Regions from separate parts of the Homo sapiens genome. Here region 2 is linked to region 1. The links come from fine-mapping of genetic effects on gene expression. Tissue or cell type: whole blood. Region 1 holds a variant in brackets; the other region holds the start of a gene. All regions are shown on one strand. Distances are between the middles of the regions.

Evidence for each region. PIP is the estimated chance that this variant, and not a neighbour inherited with it, causes the effect.
Region 2: SH2B3 starts here. The variant in region 1 is fine-mapped to the expression of SH2B3 in whole blood (INTERVAL, PIP above 0.99).

Annotation. Positions count from the first base shown.
Region 1 is chr12:111,537,094-111,545,196 of GRCh38, reverse strand. The region is part of intron 5 of ATXN2 (ataxin 2); the gene reads left to right. Among named protein-coding and RNA genes, the nearest start is that of ATXN2, 58 kb to the left of the region's middle. The variant G/A (reference allele first, on the strand shown) is at 4,464.
Region 2 is chr12:111,401,017-111,409,119 of GRCh38, reverse strand. SH2B3 (SH2B adaptor protein 3) reads right to left here and starts at 3,197. Exons shown (of 8, transcript NM_005475.3): 1 at 2,843-3,197. It overlaps LINC02356 (long intergenic non-protein coding RNA 2356), which reads right to left. Exons shown (of 4, transcript NR_187522.1): 4 at 5,810-5,982. RefSeq lists silencers at 2,859-3,438, 3,559-3,718 and an enhancer at 5,741-5,990.

The DNA.
Region 1 (8,103 bases):
TAAAAAGGATTCTTTTTTGTTTTGTTTTGTTTTTGTTTTTGAGACAGAGTCTCGCTCTTGCCCAGGCTGGAGTGCAGTGGCACTATCTTGGCTCACTGCAAGCTCCGCCTCCCGGGTTCACGCCATTCTCCTGCCTCAGCCTCCCGAGTAGCTGGGACTACAGGCACCTGCCACCACGCCCAGCTAAATTTTTGTATTTTTAGTAGAGATGGGGTTTCACCGTGTTAGCTAGGATGGTCTCGATCTCCTGACCTTGTGATCCATCTGCCTCGGCCTCCCAAAGTGCTGGGATTACAGGCATGAGCCACCGCACTGGGCCCAAAAGGATTCTTTTTAATCCTGAATTCTTCTAGCCATTATCCTGCCTAAGGCTACGATTAACCTCTAACTGCCAGGTCCTTTGGAATCTTTTTCTGTCTTTATTGCTGCACTTGAATGTTGGTTTCACCCTCCTTCAGAATTTCCTCTTCTGTATTTTTTATGTTTATTGATCATTCCTTCCCTGCCTCATTCCTGGGCTTCTTTTCCTTCACACACCCCTTAGATGTGTGTCCCCAGTGTTTGTTTCTTTGCCTGCTGCTCTTGCCACATGACACACACTGCCAGCTACCACACACAAGTTCCCTCCTATCATGTGTGTATCATTGCCCTTATACCATGTTGTATTAAAATTATATGCTTGTCTCCCCTGTTACAGTTTGAGCTCTTTGTGCTCCAAGTAAAGACAGTGATACTGTCTTTATTATTTATTCTCATGGTCTAGTATAGTGCTTTGGCACATAGTACAGGCTCAATATAAATGTGTTTGAATAAATGAAATTCAGTGCCTTAATACACTTTTGTAGAAGCATTATTTTATGGAAAGAATGAAAAAGCTGTAAGTGGTCTTACATATATAGTCATCCAGCAGATACTTAGAGAGCTCTGGGATGTGTTCCTTGCTGTGCTTGTTGCTATGGACAGTACGGAGAAATACAAGAATCTATTTTGGGTCCCTTTTGAGAACCTAGTGAAACTGTGTACCTAGTGAAACTGTATACCCTCACCCTAGAAAAATTTACACACATGTAGATTTTACATGTAATTCTTTTAAAAATTAATTTTTTTTCTTTTTTTTAAAGAAACAGGGTCATGCTCTGTCACTCAGGCTGGAATGCAGTGGTGTGATCATGGCTTACTGTAGCCTCGACCTCCTGGCTCAAGCGACTCTCCCACCTCAGCCTCCCAAGTAGCTGGGGCTACAGGTGCACGCCGCTATGCCCGGCTAATTTTTAAAAATATTTTATAGACACTGGTTCTCACTATGTTTCCCAGGCTGGCCTTTACCTCCTGGGTTCAAGCAATCCTCTACCTTGGCCTTCAAAAGTGATGGGATTATAGGTGCAAGCCACTGTGCCCACGCTAATGTAATTTCATGGTGTTCACAGTTTCTTCAGGGAGTTCATATACGCCATGTACTCTATTCTAAGCATTTTTAGAGTTAGAGATAGCAAAGCACGTGAATAAATTCAAGAAAAATGGAATGTTGTACTGCATGACATTGAATATCAAATGGAGTCAGCGATGCAAATAATTGTCTAGATTTTACAAAAAAAATTAGCCTGGTGTGCTGGTGTGCGCCTCTAATCCCAGCTACTCGGGAGGCTGAGACAGGAGAATCATTTGAACCCAGAAGGTGGAGGTTGCAATGAGCTGAGATCGTACCACTGCACTCCAGCCTGAGTGACAGAGCGAGACTCCATCTCAAAAATAAAAAATAAAAGAATTGTGTAGATTTTAGTAGTTGGAAGAAGTTGGAGTGTTAATGTGTAATTAGAGAACAGTGAGAAATAAAATTCTACAGATTGTTTTATTCTGGTGTGCTGTTGTGTTCTCATATGGTTGTCTTTTTGGTCTTGATAGTGTATCAGTAACAGAGTACGAGTAACAAACAGGGATCTCTTCTGAACGGCGTGACATTAGAAAAGCTGTTTACGGCCTCAACTTTGCTGTGGTTTATTAAGACACAGATATGTGTTCATTCTGGGGCCAAGCAGTAACTGGAGAGTGGCACTTATTGAGGCCAGTATGGAGGCAGTACAGAGATTATTGAGATTAAAAGAAAGAAACAGGTGGAACGGATCTATGTAATGGAAAGCTAAACAGAATAGTTCGTGGTACACAGTAGAAAAGCATTACATGTTTATTAAGATATGGTCATCTTCCATTTATTAAAGTTACATGTTTTATAATTTTTAGAGTATATAGAAATTCTCTACCCTATCATGTTTGCCAAAGTCAGAACAATAACTTCATTTATTAAATATAAAAAAAATAAAAACCTCTAGCATAAAATAGAATTTTATTTGGACAAACGATAAAAAAATACTGTGTGGTACTAGTAAGAGTAAGGTTGATTCAAGATACATGGGAGCAGAATCCAAAGTGTAGAAATAGGCCAGGTGCAGTGGCTCATGCCTGTAATTTCAACACTTTTGGAGGCTGAGGCGGGAGGATGAGTTCAGGAGTTCAAGACTCGCCTTGGCAACTTGGCAAAACCCCATCTCTACAAAAAGTACAAAAATTAGCCGGGTGTGGTGGTGTACTCCTGTAAACCCAGCTACTTGGTGGGCTGAGGTGAGAGGTTCACTTGCAGCCAGTAAGTCAAGGCTGCAGTGAGCTGTGGTTATGCCACGGCACTCCAGCTGGGTGACAAGCAAGACCTTGTCTCAAAAACAAACCAGCCAGGCGTGGCGGATCACCTGAGGTAAGGAGTTGGAGACCAGCCTGGCCGACATGGCTCTACTAAAAATACAAAAATTAGCTGGGCGAGGTGACGGGCACCTGTAATCCCAGCTACTTGGGAGGCTGAGGCAGGAGAATCGCTTGAATCCAGGAGACGGAGTTTGCAATGAGCCGAGATGGTGGTGCTGCACTCCAGCCTGGGTGACAGAGCCAGACTCTGTCTCAAAAACAAAAATAAGCATAGGACATGGGGATAAATTGAAGATTTATGAAGACACAGCTGAAGGAGACATAAAAGTAGATTTGGCTAAATGGAAACATGCCATACTTTGAATGGAATTATTTAATACTACAACGTTGTCAATTTTCCTCAAATAAATCTCTAAAGATAATATATTCAGTTTTGGCCGGGCACGTTGGCTCACGCCTGTAATCCCAGCACTTTGGAAGGCTGAGGTGGGCCGATCACTTGAGGACGGGAGTTTGAGACCAGCCTGGCCAACATGGTGAAACCCTGTCTCTACTAAAAATACAAAAATCATCTGGACATGGTGGCAGGTACCAGCTACTTGGGAAGCTGAGGCAGGAGAATTACTCGAACCCCGTAGGTGGAGGTTGCAGTGAGCTGAGATTGCACTCCAGCCGGGTGACTCCATCTCAAAAAAAAAAAAATTTTTATAATATATATATATATATCCGTTTTTGTAGAAATTGACAAAATGATTCTAAAGCTTATTAGATTATGTGTATTAACAGAAGAACTTTGGAAATTTTTTTCCACAAGAGTCATAAAGGAGGACTTGCCCTACAAAATATGTCAGAATTAAAACATAACTTGTCAGCTGGGTGCGGTGGCTCACGCCTATAATTCCAGCACTTTGGGAGGCTGAGGCAGGCAGATCATGACCAGCCTGACCAACATGGAGAAACCCCGTCTCTACTAAAAATACAAAATTAGCCGGTCATGGTGGCGCATACCTGTAGTCCCAGCTACTCGGGAGGCTGAGGCAGGAGAATCGCTTGAACTCGGGAGGTGGAGGTTGCAGTGAGCCGAGATCGCGCCATTGCACTCCAGCCTGGGCAACAAGAGTAAAACTCTGTTTCAAAAAAAAAAAAAAAAAAAAAAGAATTATAACTGTCACAGTGGCTACGTATGGAGCATCCAAAACTGAATTTATGTGGGTATTTTATTAATATGCAATATAGCACTTTAATTCTGGAGGAAAGGTGGATTATTCAGTAAATGATTCTGGGACATTGGGGACAAATTAGATACCTACTTCACACTGATAAATAAAACCAAATAGATTAATGAGAAAACTGTGATTAAACAAAACAACACCCAGACTACACTGGAGCAAATCTGTGAATTTGTTTAATTTTGAGTGGAGAAGGACTTTATAAGCATGACTACCAGAGCAAAAAAATCATGAAGTAAAAGATCGATACCTTTGATTATAAAGAGATTAAAGATTTAGGCCGGGTGTGGTGCTCACGCTTGTAATCCCAGCACTTTGGGAGGCCAAAGCGGGTGGATCACTTGAGGTCAGGAGTTTGAGACCAACCTGGTCAACCTGGTGAAACCCCATCTCTACTAAAAATACAAAAAAATTAGTCAGGCATGGTAGCACATGCCTGTAATCCCAGCTACTCAGGAGGCTAAGGCAGGAGAATTGCTTGAATTTGGGAAGTGGAGGTTGCAGTGAGCCGAGATTGTGCCACATCACTCCAGCTTGGGC[G/A]ACAGAGTGACTCCATCTCAAAAAAAAAAAAAAAAAAGACTTAGACGTGTCCAAAAGTACCATACATTTAAAAAGACATGCCACAAACTGGGAAAAGTAGAAAAATAGTTTTAAAAATGACCAGTGAATGTATGAAAAGGTGGCCCTCCTCACTTGTAATGATTTAAGAAATGCAGTTTATTTTTATTTTATTGTATTTTTAAAGAAATTCAGTTTTAAAGCAGTGGAATATGATTGTCTATCAGCTTGCGCTGAATGGTAAATGTGAGAAAGATTACTACTACTTAGTGGTACTGAGGGAGTTGCAAAACACTTAACACTGCTAGTGGGATGGTTTAAGTAAAACAAGTAGCATTCTTAAACTCTCTATTAGGTAAAGAATAGGTAAGTAATGCATATGTTTCCAGGACATTTTCAGTAAGACTGTTTACTGATAGGGTTGTGTAATGCTAATATACTTACTATCTAGTTTTAGTATTATTTTTTTCTCTTGTCTTGGATGGTTTCAATGGAGTCTTATGCATGCAGATATATTAAAACTAGTAATAAAGCAAGAGAAGGAATGTGGATAAATTATCTCTAATTTCTATTTTGTTCTATTTCTATTTCATACTCCTGGGAAAGAATATTAAGTGGGCATGTGTACTTGAACAGTTGTTCTGTTTTTTATTAGAAAAGAATCCGAATCTATAAAATGTTTTACATATTTGCCAGGGAAACAGAAAAGATATTTGTACAGCTGTAAGAATTGGAATTAATTTCATTTTACTGACTTTTCCTTAACCTAATTCTGAACACTTTTGCCATAGGTTTGAGAATAAGTTGTTATAAAATGACTACTATTCTTCACTAATAGTATTGGCATTTCAATTCCTAAATTCTGTTTTTTGATTCTTGAACATTTCTGAATTTACTTTTTTTGTCTTAGTTCTTCTACAGAATCATTTTCTTCTTTTTTCTTTTTTTATTTTTATTTTTTATTTTTGAGACAGAGTCTTGCTCTGTTGCCCAGGCTGGAGTGCAGTAGCGCGATCTCGGCTCACTGCAAGCTCCGCCTCCCGGGTTCATGCCATTTTCTCCTGCCTCAGCCTCCCGGGTAGCTGGGACTAGAGGTACCCGCCACAGCGCCCGGCTAATTTTTTGTATTTTTAGTAGAGACGGGGTTTCACCGTGTTAGCCAAGGTGGTCTCAATCTCCTGACCTCGTGATCCATCCGCCTCGGCCTCCCAAAGTGCTGGGATTACAGGCATGAGCCATCGCACCCGGCCTTCTTTTTTTCTTTCTCTTTAACTTCTGAGCTGAAAATAGTACCTTTTATAAAGAAGTGCTCAAACGATGATTGGACTGATTTCTCCTTATTTCTCTCTTTCTCTCTGTCTCTTTCACTCTCTTTTTAGAATTTTTCTTTTTTAAGTAGAGACGAGGTCCCACTATGTTGCCCAGGCTGTCTTGAACTCCTGAGCCCAAGCAATCCTCTTTGCCTCAGCCTCCCAAAGTGCTCGGATTACAGGCTTAAGCTATCACACCAGGCCTAGGCTAATTTCATATTTTGAGATGGCACAAATTTCTTTCAGGTAGCTAGCTTTTCCTCCTCCTCCCCACTTAAAATAGATCCTGATCCAGAAGCCTAATGGAGAAAATGAAAACAGAATGTTCACCCATAAACAGTATCTTTGTATTGGAATCTTTTCTAAAACTTCTTTTGATCTTTTTAGGAGATAGTGTGGGAATCAGCAATCTAGTATTACGTACGTGGAATCTGTCACCTTGTTTTTTTAAATACAGCAAACCTCATGAAGTGAATTTCCATATTTTTTCTTGTTCTTGTTAGTTTTGCACCACTCAGGCTTTGCTGTAGAATTTGATGTATATTTGATTCTGTAGAGCATGGGCTATTGATCTTCACTCAGCTTTCAGAGGAATCTGATTAGTAAGTTTGAGTTTTTTATTATTTTTTAGTTGATTTTGAAGTAAAATACAGCACCATTTTAACTGATACCATTTCTAAACAATTTTCAGTTCAAATTTTAAGTTAGCTAATTTAGAGCTTAAGAAAATTGCTTTAAAAACATAAAATTACTGGCTGGGTACAGTGGCTCATTCCTGTAATCTCAGCACTTTGGGAGGCCAAGGCAGATGAATTGCTTGAGCCCAGTAGTTCAAGACCAGCCTGGGCAATATGGTGGAACCCCGTTTCTACAAAAAAAATACAAAAAGTAGCCAGACACGGTGGTATGTACCTGTAGTCCCAGCTATTCGGGTGGCAGAGGTGAGAGGATCATCTGAGCGCAGGGAGATTGAGGCTGCAGTGAGCCAAGTGAGACCCTGGTTTCAAAAAAAAAAAGGTTACTAATTGCAGTGCCTTTTATCTTATTTAATGGGCTTAGTCAAACTAAGATGATGTATTTTATCTTATAAATGTTTTCCCTTGAATTTTAACTGAAGAATCCAATTTGTACCTCTCACAAACAGAATGTATTAGTAAGGAAAATAAATACTGCTTTTTATTACTTAAATAGGATATATTTTTCTCTTAGGGATTTTTTTTCTATTTTATCTCACTTTATCGTAGTGCTAGAAAATTTAATCATTCATTTGAGATAGGGAGAAAATTAGGTTTTTTTTTTTCTTCTATTTTGAGACAGGGTCTCATTTTGTTGTCCAGGCTGGAGTGCAGTGGCGCCATCGTAGCTCACCATAACCTCAAACTCATGGGTTCAGGTGATTCACCTTAGCCTCCTGATTAAGCTGGGACTGCAGATGTGTATCACCACTCCTGGCTAATTTTTGTTGTTATTTTTTGTTTGATGAGGTCTCATTATGTTGCCCAGGCTGGTCTCAAACTCTGGGCCTCAAATGATCCTCCTGCCCCAGCCTCCCAAAGTGCTGGGATTACAGGCATGAACCTCTGCTCCCAGCCCATTTTTTAAAATATATTCACAGCATTGTGCAACCATCACTACAATCAATTTACATTTTCATCACCCTGAAAAGAAACTCTGAACCCCTTAGCAGTTCCTCTCTGTTTGTTTCAATTTTCCCCAGCTCCAGGCAACTATTGATTTATTGTCTTCATAGGTTTGCCCATTCTGGACATTGCGTATTAATGGAATCATATAATATATAGCCTTTTTTTTTCTTTTTTTTTTTTGAAACAGAGTCTCACTGTGTCGCCCAGGCTGGAGCGCAGTGGCATGATTGCAGCTCACTGCATCCTCTGCCTCCCAGGTTGAAGCGATTCTCCTGCCTCAGCCTCTTGAGTAGCTGGGACTATAGGCGCCTGCCACCACACCTACTAATTTTATATTTTTAGTAAAGACGGGGTTGCACCATGTTGGCCAGGCTGGTCTCGAATTCCTGACCTCAAGTGATCTGCCCACCTCGGACTCCCAAAGTGCTGGGATTGCAGCCATGAGCCACCGCATCTGGCCATATATATTATGATAGGCTTGTTTCACTTAGTATGTTTCTTCCATGCTGTAGCATGTATTAGTACTTCTTTCTTTTTCATGGCCAAATATTCCATTATACAGTTACACAGGTACACTACATTTTGTTTATTCATCAGTTGGTGGACATTTTCATTGTTTCCACCTTTTGATTTATACATAATCCTGCTGCGAACAGTGACTTTTAAAGT
Region 2 (8,103 bases), 140 kb after region 1:
CTTCCATCGGGCAGGCGAGGTCCAGATCAGAGAAGCCAGGTAACCTGCCTAGGACCTCACACCTGGAAGCTGGCAGAGCCCAGATTTGGCCCCAAAGTCCATACTGCTACCAGGGAGAAGTGGGAATTTAGCAGGAAAAGCCTCTTGTTTTATTAATAGCAATAATATCTACTATTGTTAATTGAGTGCCAGGCTCAGCGCTCAGTGCCTTATGTGCCATGTCACAGCAAGTGCACAGCTGTTAAAGCCTTTCACAGATGTTGTCTCAATTGCCTCAGAGAGCTTAAGTGATCAACCCAAGGATCCCCAGCAATGGGAGACCCTCATGAACACCAGCCCTCAGAAGGGTGTGGGGTCATGTAAACTGGGTCCCAAAGGTGTTTCCAGCAAAAGGAGCTGTATTGGCCCAGACTGTGGGACAGCTCCCTACTATGTCCCTGAGACCCCCTTCACTGACCCTCCCCACCTTGGCTGGGGAGGGCACCCGGTCTCCCCTCACCACAGACAGGTGGCACTGAGACTGGCAGCGAGGAGGTCCCTCCAAGTGCCTCCAGCTCTGCTCCACCTGGGATATGGAGAATGTCTGGGGGTGGCACAGCGGGAGCCAGAAATCCAAGGGCCCAGCAGTCCTGTGGGATCTGATTTGTACTCAAAAGTTCTATTTATCGGAGAAGGAGGATCAGGCCCAGGTTTGAGAGGCATGGGGGTGGGGGTGGGGGGATGAGGAAAGAAAGCCAGCAGAGCTAACACCCACAACAAAAAAGATCATTCCGGCCCCAAGGCTACTTCTTCTCTTCCTCCTGACCAAGCCACTCTGGACACTGTGAATTCACTCATTCATGGTTCCCATGACTCTAGGAAGTAGGTACTATTAGCACACCCATTTCACAGATGAGGAAACTGAGGTGGGGCAGTTAAGCAAGGCCTTATAGCTAAGGAAGTGCCCAGATCTTCAAAATTCTGCTCCCAAAGACCCAGGAAATTCCAGTGCTATGTATGCAAGAGATGCTCAAGGGAGACTACTGAAGGAACACCTCATAGCCAATAACAGTAACACTAATGAAGGCAATGATAAAATCACCACTACCACCACCACCACCTGCAACTGAACCTCTCTTTGCCAGGCAGCAGGTGCTCATTACACACTGGCTCATTAAATCTCCACTGCAAACCTGTTACTCCCCCATTTTACACAGAGGGAAACTGAGGGCAGAGTCACTTGCCCACGCCTTCAGCTGAACGAAGGCAATAGGAGTAGCAAAGCACAGTCTCCAGGACCCTCCTCACTATCCTCCTCCACTTCCTGCTGAGCCCCTGCAGACCCTGAGCCCCCAGCTGCTGATGCTCTGAGCCAGCCCCTTCCCAGCTGGCCGCTCTGTGGCCCACAGGGACTCACAAAAGTTCTAGGAATGCTCACCCTTTGGCTCAGAAGGATTTTCCCTCCCAGAGGGGGTAGTGGGAAAAGGCTCAGGAAAAGTGCACTAAAAACCCTTCCAACTTCCCCCAGTAGGCCCTGGCTCTCATCCTCCGAGCCCAGCCTGCCCAGGTGGCCTCTGACGGCTCTCCCTCCACGAGGGCAGGTCCCGAGGAGCCTCCAGAGCTGTTTCCACTCAGGCAGCCAGGTCAGTGATGGGAAACCCAGACACAACCTGCGCCTGCATCCCTGGAGACCCACAGGCCCACTGCCCTGGCAGGGGCCCTGAGGCCTGGCTGCTAGCCGGTGTTAGGGAACTGTCATCTCCCCGGCGAGGGGCTGCGGGTCAGATCTCGGTCCCTCCTGCCACCAAAGCTGGCCTTGCCGACATTGCCTTGCCGGGGCCTCTGCTCTGAACCCCCCACCAGATTTCACTTCCTCCCACTCAGCCCAGCCTGGCCGTGCCCCTCCCTGGAGGCCCCCAGCTGCAGGCAGTGACCTCCTCACCTACATCATTGTGGCTGGGAATGGGGAAGAGAAACAGGAGAATGAGGAAACTAAAGAAAAAAAGAAGCGGGACAGGCAGGCAGACCCTCCTCTCCAGTTCCTCAAATGCAGTCCCCCTCCCTCAAAACAAAGCTCCCCTGGCCGGAGGGAGGGAAGGGAGGGAAGGGGATTTCTGCACCAGGCATCAGAGACCTCTGAAATACCATCCCTACCGTGCGGATCTAGAAGACCAACACCCACTCCAGACGTTTTTTGGTCGGGGGATTCCCAGGGAACCCCAGGCAAGAGGTGTGAGAGGATCAATACCAGAAACCTGTCTCTGGGACGCCTAGCCCTGGTGAACCGCCCAATTCAGCAGCATGCGGGGGCCTGGCCCGGTCGACCTCGGCAGTGCAGGAACTGGGGAGAGGGGCTTCCTGAATCAGGGCGCTACCCTCTTAGCCACATGGCCCGGAATGGGGAGTGGGGAGGGGCCGGCGCATCCTCCCCCGCTGCCCCCACACCCAAGGGCTCATCTGTGCTCACAGCCTCAGTTTGACTACTTTCACTTTCAGGGTAGCAATGGGTGACCCCTGACCGCTCCTCCCCAGGCACAAGTTGAGGGGAGGGCCGCCCCCAACCGGCGAGGCTACCGTAGGGTGGGCTGGGGGCGTCAGCGATGCCCTCTCCCCCATCCCACGGCCTCAGTTACCCCAACGCTCTCCCTAACACGTGTGTGGGTGGGGGTAGTGGCTGAGTGGGGGGTCGTAGGCGCTGGGAGCCGTCACCCCGGAACGCCTCCATCCGAGTTGGCTGCAGGGCAGTATTTTGGGCTGGGGGTGACGCGCAGAGCCCGGGCAGAACTGGACACGGGGCCTCCTCTTTCCCCACAAAAGCCCTCCCGGCCCCGGAGGAGGGGAGCGCGGGCAAACGCGGGCTCACCTGAGAGACAGGAGCTCTGGGCCCGGCCGGCCCATGGCGTCGCGCGCCCCCGGGCCCTCGAAATCCCGAGGGGGCGGGCGGGCCCCCGCCCTGGGCGCGTCCTCTCCCGCCCGCCGGCTCCTCGCTCGCGGCTCGCTCGAGCGGGGCTCAGGCAGGAAACCCGGGCTCGGAAAATGGCCAGCGCCTCATCATTTCCGCCGCCAGCGCTTGACAGTTGCGGGAGGATGCGCCCCCGGGCCGCCGCCGCCGGGGAAACTTTGCAGCGGCCGCCGTCGCCACCGCGGGCCGCGACAGTCCGGGCGGGCAGCCGGGCGGAGGCGGTGGCCCGGGCCCATGCCGCCCCGCGCCGTTATGTAAAGAGGAACCGGCCGTGCGAGCGGAGCCCGGCGGGGGAGGCCGGCCGCGACAGGGGCGGGGCAGGGGCGGGGCCACCAGGAGCCACGCCTCAGGCCGCGCGCGAGTCGGAGATTCGGCTGGAGGGGCGGGCCATGAGGGCGGAGCCCGGACTGGCCCCGCCTACCAATCCCGCTAGTCCGCGGCTGCCAGGGTCGGAGGGCTCTCCTGGCGCGGGTCCGGAAAAAGGCGAGGCCTTGCGAAGCCACGCCCACCACGTGCCCACCCGATTTCGCGTCCCACAGTCTGAAGATAGAAGTGAGGATCGGAGGGGCGGGGCGACTTTAGCCCCACCCACTCAACGCCGGCAGGTCACCAGGTGCCTCAGCGCCTGGAGGCGGGGCCAGATGAAGGGGCGGGGCCTAGGGCGGGCAGGGTCGAGGGGCCTGGCCTCCAGGGGGCGCGCCCTTGCTGACTCCCTCCTGCAGGGCCTTATCAGTGCCCGCAGGGCTGGGCGGTGCAATAGCGACCACGGCTTTCATCATCGCCCCAGGGAGGGAGCCCAGCCCTGCCCGACCCTGACTATCTGCGATCATGCTGACCCGACCCGCCACGGCCCCAGGCCCCCGATTTGGGTTCTGGCCCCAGCCCTCAGCTTTGCCTTTGCTACAGCCGGTGCCCGTATAGCCCAGCCTCGCTCCGGCCGCCCGTCCTGTCCCCCAATTCTAGGAGGGGTGCATCTTTCTCCAGGAAGCCCTCTCCGACCGCTGGCTTCCGTGGCCTCTGCGCCCACCCCCCTGCCCGCCCCCGGGCTACTTACATTTTCTCCACGGCCTCATGGGGAGCTGAGACGGACAGTGGGGTTCCCCCTAGTCCGGAGTGGGACATGCTCTCAGCCAGCCTCTCCCCCAACATGTGGGAGGGCGGGGAGGGAGGAATGTACTCTTCTCCCCCTCCCCCAACAGGAAACAAGTCGCCCACGCCCCCAGCTTGGAGGGGCCACCTCGAGTCTTCCCAGGCAGCAAGTGTCTCCATTCCACTGCCTCCCCCTCTTCCTACCCGGGCAAATGACTTGACTTCTCCGTACCTCTCCACTTCCTTGCCTATGAAATGGAAATAATGTGTACCCACTCTCCTGGCAGTGAGAATTAAGTGAGTTAATGCATTAAAGCAGTTAGCTCGAGGCTTGGCTCCAGGAAGCTCTCTGTGTTAAACAAATCGGCCCCAGTCCTGACCTTAGAACTACAGGAAGGGGTTCCCCAGAAGGTGGGGATTTCCAGACTCCGAGTAGATGGGGGAAGGGAGCGGTCTGCTACAGGATTCCTGGTGTCCAATGACCTTGAAGAAAAAGGCCACAAAAATCTGCTTTCCGCACATTTCCAGGCACTGTTCTAGGCGCTGGGAACACAGCAGTGAACAACACAGATATCCCTGCCTGCGTGGAGCTGATATTCTAGTGGGGGGACATAAGGCACGAATAAGCAAGTGGGATCAGCTATGACAATGACAAAACAGTTACGGGATGGAGAGCTGGAAGGGGATGTCTTAGATCCAGGGCTCAGGAAGGACACCTCTGCGGAACTAACATGTGAGCTTAGAACCCTCCATGACAAGAAGGATCCAGGTGCTATAACGTCTGAGGGAAGAGCATTCCAGGCCAAAGGAACAGCATGTGCAAAGGTGCTGAGGTGGGAATACATGTGGTGCTTTGGAATAAAGTCATAAAGGCAGTGGTGACACCTATACTGGTAAGAGATGATGTTTCAAAGGTGGGCCCATCACATGGTGTCTTGAAGGTCTTGGTGGGGACTTTGGGAATTATTTTGAAGGCAGTAGGGTGCCATGGAGGGTTGTGAGGAGAAGGACCTGTGGAGTGTGGGATTCAAGCTGTTCACACGGCATCTGAGGATGTGGGAAGAGGGGTGGGGTGGGGGAATGTCAATGAAGTCTAAACGAGGCCGGGTGTAGTGGCTCACACCTGCAATCTCAGCACTTTGGGAGGCTGAGGCCAGCGGATCACCTGAGGTCAGGAGTTTGAGACCAGCCTGGTCAACAGGGTGAAACCCTGTCTCTACTAAAAATACAAAAATTAGCCAGGCATGGTTGCACGCACCTGTAGTCCCAGCTACTGGGGAGGCAGAGGCAGAAGAATCGCTTGAACCTGGGAGGTGGACACTGCAGTGAGCCAAGATTGCATCACTGCACTCGAGCCTGGGAGACAGAGGTAGGCTCTGTCTCTAAAAAAAAAAAAAAAAAAAGTCTGAATGGATCATCCCATATTATTTGATCACTTTCTTATACCTGGGGACACTGCGGCCAAGAGAGAACAGTTACTTGTCTGTAGCCATGCAGCTGCCAGGCAGCACCCACAGAGCAGCCCGGTACCCAGCCAATGCCAAATGGCTGCTGAAATCTGCCAGCCACAAGCACTTTCCCTCTCACTGCCCAGACAGCAGCTCTGCTGACTTAAATTGGGACTTGTGGTTCTTCCCCTTTTTAATCACGGTTCAAACCTTCTCGCCTGCCAGATTTCTCGGAGGCCCAAACTGGTTTCCTTCCTCGCTTAGTCGCTTCTTGCCCACATCCCCGCCAGAGTCCAGTTTTTTGTTTTGGCGCTCGCTGAGACCCCAAGACTTCTCACTTTTTGTGTTTATTTTCCCTTGGAAAGGCAAAGGGATTCCAACAAATAACCTTCCCATCACCGTGCCCAGATTTGAGAGTGCCGCTGCCACGAACACAGCGAGGTCGTCGTCGCCACTGGGAGGCCGGCCAGCCACGGCTCTTCCCACTCGGCAGGTCACTGGGACCTAAGGAGAGAAAGGGTTATTCAAATTCCCATGACTGATCCGTAGCTCCCGGAAACAAGCCAGGCCGTCTTAGGGGAGCAGGTCCAACCGCCCTTCCTTCTTGCTGTGAAAAACACCAACACCTCCTGCTGGCCAAGTTCCAGAAAGCCGGAGACTCACAGGATTAATAACAATTACAGGCCACGCGCGGTGGCTCATGCCTGTAATCCCAGCACTTTGGGAGGCCGAGGCAGGCGGATCACCCAAGGTCGGGAGTTCGAGACCAGCCTGACCAACATGGAGAAACCCCGTCTCTACTAAAAATACAAAATTAGCCAGGTGTGGTGCCGCATGCCTGTAATCCCAGCTACTCAGGAGGCTGAGGCAGGAGAATTGTTTGAACCCGGGAGGTGGAGGTTGCGGTGAGCCGAGATCGTACCATTGCACTCCAGCCTGGGCAACAAGAGTGAAAATCCGTCTCAAAAAAAAAAAAAAAAAATTAAAAAGATAACGATTACAACACGAGTCAACAGCAATAAATTAACAATGATCAATGCTATTAATATTCATATTAGCAATTCGTATTAATAATAATTTAAATAACAACAAAAGTTAACTAGTACAAACACAAATACATGATAAGTGCTTGAGGTGATGGATACCTCATTTACCCTGATGTGATAATTACACATTGCATGCCTGTATCAAAATACCTCACATACTCCATAAATATATACACCTACTATATACTCATAAAAATTCAAAAAGTGGGCCAGGCGCGGTGGCTTAGGCCTGTAATCCCAGCACTTTGGGAGACTGAGGCGGTGGATCACAAAGTCAGGAGTTCAAGACCAGCCAGGCCAATATGGTGAAACCCCATCTCTACTAAAAATACAAAAATTAGCCGGGTGTGGTGGCGGGTGCCAGTAGTCCCAGCTACTCGGGAGGCTGAGGCAGGAGAATCGCTTAAACCCAGGAAGGGGAGGTTGCAGTGAGCTGAGATCACGCGACTGTGCTCCAGCCTGGCAACAACAGAGCGAGACTCCGTCTCCAAAAAAAAAAAAAAGAGTTCTCTGTTCTGTATCTCCTAGCTGTGCAGTCACATAGATTCTCTGGGCCTCAGTTTCCTCATCTGGAAAATGGGGACAGTGACAGGACTGACCCCATTGGGTTGAGGGGGAATTTGATGAGAAAACTCACATTGAGGGCTTAGGAGTGGGGGAGGTACCTCCACATAGCAACGACTGATAAAGAATGTTGAATATAGTGCAGGCTCGGTGGCTCATGCCGGTAATCCCAGCACTTTGGGAGGCTGCAGCAGATGGATCACCTGAGGTCGGGAGTTTGAGACCAGCCTTGTCAACATGGTGAAACCCTGTCTCTACTAAAAATACAAAAATTAACTGGGCGTGCTGGTGGGTGCCTGTAATCCCAGCTACTTGGGAGGCTGACGCAGGGATAATTGCTTGAACCTGGGAGGCGGAGGTTGCAGTGAGCCGAGATTGCACCATTGCACTCCAGCCTGGTGACAAGAGTGAGACTTCGTCTCAAAAAAAAAAAGAATGTGATTATAATCTATGATTGGGTGTGAGAGTCCCGTGTCCCTCGAGGGTTGTGAAGAGGAGTGGCCACAAAGACCAGTCCTGTAAACAACAGAGCTTCACACCCCTTTTACAGATGCAGACACTGAGGTTTGAGAGCAAAGATCTTGCCCAGGGTCACCCAGCCAGAGTGGAGGCCTTGCTGTCTGCATTTGTAAAATGTGCTTCTGCAGGCCTGGGCCACAGGCGAGGAGGAGGCCCGGGGACCTGGCCTGGCCTGGCCCCCAGCTGGGCAATGGCTACTGCTGGTGTTTCCCATGCCCGAGTTTCCATCACGGCACTGCTGTGCAACCTCCAAAGGTCCCCTCTTGCCACCAGCAACAGGCTCCCACTTTCTGAGCCTCAGTATCTCTGGCTTGTCAAATGGGCATGATAGTAGTTGGGTGAAGGGAAATGACATTGTGTAGGACACTTTGTCCCTAGTGGCCTTCAGTGAATGCACAGAGTGCTGAGCATTATCAAAGGACACTGCAGCACACTGGGCTCCTCCTGGCTGTTCCTCAAACTCACCTTCATGCTCCCACTTCAAGGCCTTAGCACT